2 linked regions of the Homo sapiens genome follow. The protein of the gene in region 2 purifies or fractionates together with the protein of the main gene of each other region. This does not show direct contact. Each region holds a gene or a part of one and is shown on either strand. Other genes may lie near its edges.

The links. Proteins that work in one complex are often made in the same cells at the same time.
Region 1: the proteins of ATP8B2 (region 2) and CLCC1 fractionate together in Homo sapiens (co-fractionation; one large-scale study listed by BioGRID). This does not show direct contact.

The regions. Positions count from the first base shown.
Region 1 is NC_000001.11:108,929,005-108,932,484, forward strand, and holds the end of CLCC1 (chloride channel CLIC-like protein 1 isoform 1 precursor), read right to left. Parts: 3' UTR 937-3,480; coding exon of another isoform or gene 697-936; 3' UTR 501-696; downstream 1-500. Other genes in the region: GPSM2 (G-protein-signaling modulator 2), read left to right, coding at 697-936. UniProt on the Homo sapiens protein: Anion-selective channel with Ca(2+)-dependent and voltage-independent gating. Permeable to small monovalent anions with selectivity for bromide > chloride > nitrate > fluoride.
Region 2 is NC_000001.11:154,328,525-154,332,024, reverse strand, and holds part of ATP8B2 (phospholipid-transporting ATPase ID), read right to left. Parts: intron 3,228-3,500; exon of another isoform or gene 3,038-3,227; coding exon of another isoform or gene 2,950-3,037; intron 1,630-2,949; coding exon 1,571-1,629; intron 1,211-1,570; coding exon 1,097-1,210; intron 978-1,096; coding exon 879-977; intron 582-878; coding exon 520-581; intron 420-519; coding exon 347-419; intron 72-346; coding exon 1-71. UniProt on the Homo sapiens protein: Catalytic component of P4-ATPase flippase complex, which catalyzes the hydrolysis of ATP coupled to the transport of phosphatidylcholine (PC) from the outer to the inner leaflet of the plasma membrane.

The DNA of each region.
Region 1 (3,480 bases), about 45 Mb from region 2:
AAATTCATTCTGGGCTATTTCTTAACAGATTTAACAGCCTAAGACAGAGGCAGGCAAACTTTTTCTGTAAAAGGCCAGATAGAAAATATTTTAGGCTTTGCCGCCCATATGGTATCTATTGCAACTGCCCAACTCTGCCATTTAGTAGGGAAGCAGCCATATAGATAGTATATAAACATATGTATTGATGGGAAAATGAAAATGACTTCATTTACAGAAGCCGGCACTGGGTTACAGTTTGCTGTCCCCTAGCCTAAGACGTGATTTTTTTAAGGTAGTTCCTCATGGGGTTTGTACATATTTCTAAAGATTTGTTAAGTTACACAGTTGATGCCTGTTAGATTATAACCTTGAACTGTCATACTTAGATACAGTTGACCTTGTCTTTTATCCTTGTGACCAATTATAATTAAAACAGTATGACTTAACATAATGCACGTACTAAACCAATGAAGCAGCTATACCTATATAAGCCATTTTAAAGGAAAAATTTTATGCAGTTTCAGGTTTAAAGATTATTTCTTTCAGAAATCAGGCTGGGAACTAAAGAGAACAATATAAAAACAAAGATTAATTTCTGAGAAGCCCCAAATAAAAGTTTACAACTGCGTTTTCTTGTTGTGACTGAGAGATTTAACATAGCTTGGTGCTTTCTTTCCCACAGTATGTCTTTTAATCTCTCTCATAAACTTCTAGGGATCCAGATTAGATGATCAAAGATGTGCTCCACCACCTGCTACCACAAAGGGTCCGACAGTACCAGATGAAGACTTTTTCAGCCTTATTTTACGGTCCCAGGGAAAGAGAATGGATGAACAGAGAGTTCTTTTACAAAGAGATCAAAACAGAGACACTGACTTTGGGCTAAAGGACTTTTTGCAAAATAATGCTTTGTTGGAGTTTAAAAATTCAGGGAAAAAATCGGCAGACCATTAGTTACTATGGATTTATTTTTTTTCCTTTCAAACACGGTAAGGAAACAATCTATTACTTTTTTCCTTAAAAGGAGAATTTATAGCACTGTAATACAGCTTAAAATATTTTTAGAATGATGTAAATAGTTAACCTTCAGTAGTCTATTAAGGCATTAATACTTCTCTGGACATGCGCGTTTGAGGGTGGAGGGGTCCTGTAAGGTGCTTCATCGTCTGTGATTACTGCTTGGGATGTGTTCTTTGGCAGCTTGTGAGATTACTTTACCTAGTGTTTATAAAGTAGGAAGTTAAGTGAATCATAGATTAGAATTTAATACTCTTATGGAAATAATTTTTTAACATCTTAATTGACAATGGCGTTTTTTTATACATAACCATGGATGTAGTGGGAAACAATGTTGTTTGGTAAAAATAATGTACTTGATCAATGTAAAAAAGTATATAAAATAGTCTTACTAAAAATCTAGGTTTTTTTTTCCTCCATGAAAATCTGTTTTTTTAGGCCAAAGTCAGTATAAAAGAAACTCTACTTCTTGGGCTGGGCATGGTGGCTCATTCCTGTAATCCCAGCACATTGGGAGGCTGAGGCAGGAGGATCGCTTGAGGCTAGGAGTTCAAGACCAACCTGGGCAACATAGACCCCCGTGTCTATGAAAAATAAATCAGCAGCCAGGCGCAGTGGCTCACACCTGTAATCCCAGCACTTTGGGAGGCCGAAGCGGGCGGATCACTTGAGGTCGGGAGTTTGAGACCAGCCTGGCCAACATAGTGAAACCCTGTCTCTACTAAAAATACAAAAATTAGCTGGGCATGGTGGCATGCGCCTGTAGTTTCAGCTACTTGGGAGGCTGAGGCAGGAGAATCACTTGAACCCCTGGGAGGCAGAGATTGCAGTGAGCTGAGACCAAGCCACTGGACTCCAGCCTGAGTGACAGAGCAAGACTCTGTCTCAAAAAAAAAAAAAACAGCAAGCATGCTGGCACACACCTGTAGTCCCAACTGCTTAAGAGGCTGAGGCAGGAGGACCACTTGAGCCCAGGAGGTGGAGGCTGCACTGAGCTATGATCGTGCCACTGCACTCCAGCCTGGGTGACAGAGCAAGACCCTGTCTCTAGAAAACAAGTATCTTTTGTGTGTTTTGGGCTGTTTAAAAAAATTATTTAAAATGGTCTCTTCTGTTCCATAATACTGCTGTAAAACAAACTTTTCTAAGTTCTAATATAAAAACAAAAAACAAAACCCATGTGGTTAGGTCAAGAACCTAGGACACATAAACAAACAGAAAACAGATGAAAACTCACAAAAATTAAATATGAAAGAAAGATGTCAGCTAGAACCTTAGTTGTCATTAAGCTTTGTCTTCCTTATCCCAGATATTGAAGGCAGTTTACAAGGGGATGATAACAAAGTAACTAACTAACTGTAGCAAAAGACAAGTATGGGACAGACTGGGACCTGGAGTAACACTGGATCACAGACTGCAAAGGCCCACGCTTGGAACAAGTTGCCAACTTGTTTCACTCTGCTTGCTTCAGACTGTGCACAGCTGGGATGGGATCTGGGGATGTGGACCCCTATTCTTTCAAAAAGTCATTCAGGTGATTTGGATGGGCAAATAGAACTATTTCTCTAATGGCCAATGTTTTTTAAGAGTCATAACCTGGAATTAATTACATTAAGTGCTCAGCTAAAAAAAAAAAAAAAGTTCTAAATTACAACCTGGATTACATTATGTTTCATGTATACTATAAGGTATGATGTCCTGGATAGCATTTTAAAAACTCAGGTAAGTTTCATGGGGTTCTTATAAGAAAATTCAGTTAAGACAATATACCAAACCACAACGTAAAAAGTTTGTGTATACAAACTTTTTGTATTATTTGTACACAAAGTACAAATTTGTATTTGTACACAAAGTACAAACTTTGTGTATTATTTTGTGTATACAATAGTTCTTACAGCCTGTAAACATTCAACATTATTCCATTTAAACATTGTTTTTAACAGCTGTCTACCCTGTTCTGATTTTCCTAAAAGCTTCACACTATATAGGCTGGGCACAATGGCTCATGCCTGTAATCCCAGCACTTTGGGAGGCCGACAAGGGCGGGTCACTTGAGGTCAGGAGTTCGAGACCAGCCTGACCAACATGGTGAAACCCCATCTCTACTAAAAAATACAAAAATTAGCCAGGCATGGTGATGCACATCTGTAATCCTAGCTACTCGGGAGACTGAGGCAGGAGAATCTCTTGAACCTGGGAGGTGGAGGTTGCAGTGAGCCGAGATTGTACCACCTCACTCCAGCCTGGGTGACAGAGCAAAACTCTCAAAAAAAAGTAAAATTTCAAAAAAGCTTCACAATATAAACCTTAATTTTAATGACATATTGGCTAGTCAATAAACAAGTCTTATCTCATCTCATCTCTTTTCTGATAACAAACACCCGATGTGTTCAATTTGCTTTCATATTTAAGTCTTTCCTGAATTGCTGTCATCATTCAACAACAGTTGCATGTCGCCTTGCTAGCTGTCAAAGTAGACTT
Region 2 (3,500 bases):
CCATCAAGTTCTGCTGTCTCTATGTAACACAGCCCATGGGGCTCACTGCTGGAAAGGAGGAGGAGATCCGCCTAGAGAGAAAAACTAATGAGAAGTCCAAATATGCAAACCTCCACCCCCAGTGGGCTGTAATGGTGGCTCCTTCCACTAAGCATTCTTGGTTTGCTTAGTTCCAGGTGCATAAATGGCTAGTTCCAGGCATATCAGCATGACACAGAAGCCCCTGGTGTGAGAAAGATTCCTGCCACGGGTGTTTAAGAGGCAACAGTAAATCAGGAAAGATTCATCCTTTTCTCACAAAGAAGAGGAAGAACCTACAGGCCTAGAGGGGTACCCTGTCCCTTACCGCCACAAACTGGTTATTTTCTAGCTTGATAATATCACCAACACAGACATTCATCCACTGCTCCTGCTGGAGGCTGAGGCAACGAGAAGACAGTGAAGAGGCTGTCAGGAGCTAAAGAGGTTCCTAAGGGACCCCCTTCGTCCCCAGAGCTCTTGTCTCCAACAGGCACTCACATTCCATTGATCAGCACCTGAGACTGGCGGTTATTCACCTGGTTATCGCTCTTGTGGCGGAACTGAAAAGAAGAAAACTGAAAGGTAAGACACCTTCCCCCGCCTCGAAGGAATTCGTTGATCAGTAGAACTCAGAGCATGCTGGTTAACGCCTCATACACACCCCATCACAAACCAGTTCACTCCCTGATTCCCTCTCCCCACGCTCAGCAAAAAGACATCATGGATCTAGCTGGACCGGGTAAGGGATGTCAAGGTCACCAAGAAATTGTGCTGGATGAAGGTGGCCATGAGATGGGGGTGGGGCTGGGAGTAGGGGTGGGTGACTGGGACAAAATAGAAGAATGAAAACCACTCACATAGTCATCAGTGGCATCTTTAACAGCTGTGATGGTGAGGACAAGAACCAAAGGCACAATGGTGGTGAACCAGGACAGGGAAGAGATCTGGGGGATCAACTGAAAAAAAGAAAGAGAAGTATGCCTCTGAGGCCCCATCTGATGCCTTCATTCCCTTTCCTCTTCCTTGGCTTTATTCAGTTTGGGGAGCTGCAAAAAATCTACTATGGGTCACCTACCTGCAGAATGAGGAGGAACAGGAAGTAAGTGTTGGCAACTTCCTGGAACTGCTCAAAGAGGTTGACAGGCAGGAAGGTGAGAATATTGTACTTGGAGGTCTTGATGCAGTTACTCTATGGCAGTAGGAGAGAAGATAATGAGCAGTCTCCAGTCCCAACCCAGAACCAGACTGAGGCTGCCTCCCCCATCTTTATACTTCCCCAGACCTCTACCCCAAAAGCTAGCAAACACAGGTGTGGGAGGGGGAAAGAGGAGGAGAGAAGGGAGTCTCAAGGGGGTCAATGTATTCTGCTTCACTGACAGGTGAAGGCATGAAAAATTCAGCACGATAGCAGATGGAGAGTGGCTGAGGAGGTTGCTTCCCCTCCCCCAAGCACTCTTCCCAGGCAGCCCTCAGTCCCAACGGTAGGTTGTCCTTGCCCCATTCCCCTCTCCAAACAGAGAGAGGGAACAGGTGGTCTAGAGTCGCTTACCGCATACTGGAATTTCTCATTGTATTCTCGGTCATTAGCCCGCGCCCTCCTTTCTTCTTCTGCAACAAAATGATGCTGCAGTCAGGAGGAGCAAACTGAGGTCTGGACCAACACTTTGCTGGGGGGTTCCCTGTTTTTTTCCACAGAATATCATTTTAAGGAGTTAGCTCCACAACTGAGGGGGTCATCAAATTCTTCCCTCCAGTCCACCTCTCACCAGCAGCCTGACCACACGGCTCTCCAGGTTACATTCACAGGACAGGACATGTTCTCTTTTCCTCACCACCAAACTTCAAGGTCTTCCACTGGAAGCACCCAGTTTGTCTCCCCCACCCCCACTCCAGAGGAATCTGAGCCACTGACAGTCCTGGGATTCCCCAGCCCCTTTTGCTGCTATTACTAATGCATACATTGTCATAATCAAGGAGTAGCGCTGAAAACGCAAAGCTTCCTTCCCCCTGGGGACCACTGCAGATCTAGTCGCGGTACTGCTCTCTCCCTTATTTAGAGAGTGGGGTAGGTGGCAAGAAGGAGGCTCCCTGTGCCCTGGAGCTGCTCTGCGGGAGCATCCCAGCCCCATGTGCAGTCCCCCCTACAGGAGCCTCTGGTTGTCACATGTCACCAGCAACTGCTTCTGACTGGCCCGAAATGACATCACCTTATTTCAAAGCTCATCTTCAAGTAGAAAAAGGTGTGGGGGGTGCGTTTCAGGGATATGGGTCATGCAGACTGAGATAGAGATAGAGGAGGGAGGAATGAAATGTAATTGAAACAGTTGCTCTCTAACTGGACCTTCCTTGTACCATCTGCACACATTTAGCTTTAAAGGGCTCATCTGTCACTCAGTTAGTGACACCTATCTAGCTAAACCTATCTGAAACCTCTGCAGGTCTGGGACTGCAGGCATCAAATTCATGTCCCAGAACAAGGAGCTGTCCTATAATAGATTCCCCAGCCCGTCTCCCCGGGGGTCACCATGACCTCATGCTGCAAAAAGGGGTAACTTGGTTAGGCAGCAAACCTAATGCCTTAAGCCTGTCCGGGAGCCAAAGACAGCATTCCAGAACCCTTTCTACACACCCCAGGACCCCTGCAGAGCACACTGCAGTAACAAAACCCAGGCCACAGTGCCCCCTGCCTACCAAGCCACTTCACTCCCATAAACTTCCCTAGAGGGGCTCTCTTGGGCCAAGTCCCCTGCGCAATCACCAAAGACCATGCAAACGAAGAAGGTAGGGACTGGATCCTTCGGAGCCAGGATCTCTGGGTCTGGAAAGAGGATCAAGGCAGGTAGGGGGAGGCTGGGGACAAGTGAATGTAGGGATTGGAGGGGGGAAATAATGGGTGCGGGAGAGCTGCCAGGCGCTGCCTCCCGTTACCTGTCCCCCAAGAGGGCTTCTTTCGGCTCCAAGAGGGAGGCGCCTGGGCCCGGGCCCACTTCTCGGGCATCTCCTTGGGGACCGTCATGATCCCGGTTTGAGTGGGGGAGGGCAGACCGTCTATATGTCCTTGGCCTTAGTGGCATCGACGGGGCGGCTCCCCGGGGAGGTGCAGGAGCCGCAGCCGCTCAGAGGGGAGCCCCAGCCGTCGGGCGCGCGCCCCACCCGCAGCCCAGGCCATCCTCCCGGCCGCCGGCGCTCGGGGACACCGCGAGCTCAGCTGCGCCGCCGCCGCCGCCCCCCATGCCCCCCGGCGGATGCCAGCGTGCGCTGAGTGGCCCCGGACACGCCGAGCACGCCCAGGGTTCCGCCCCCGCCCGCTCCCCGACTGCAGGAGCCGCAGCCTGCCAGCGCGCCGCGTAGGCGAAAGCTCGCGCGCGAGCCCCGCCTCCCCTCCCACCCCCGGGCCGGGCCAATGCGGGTGAGCGGACTGCCGGCGTTGTCGGGGGCAACCGCTTTCACACACACACACCCCCGCCCGCGGAAAAACC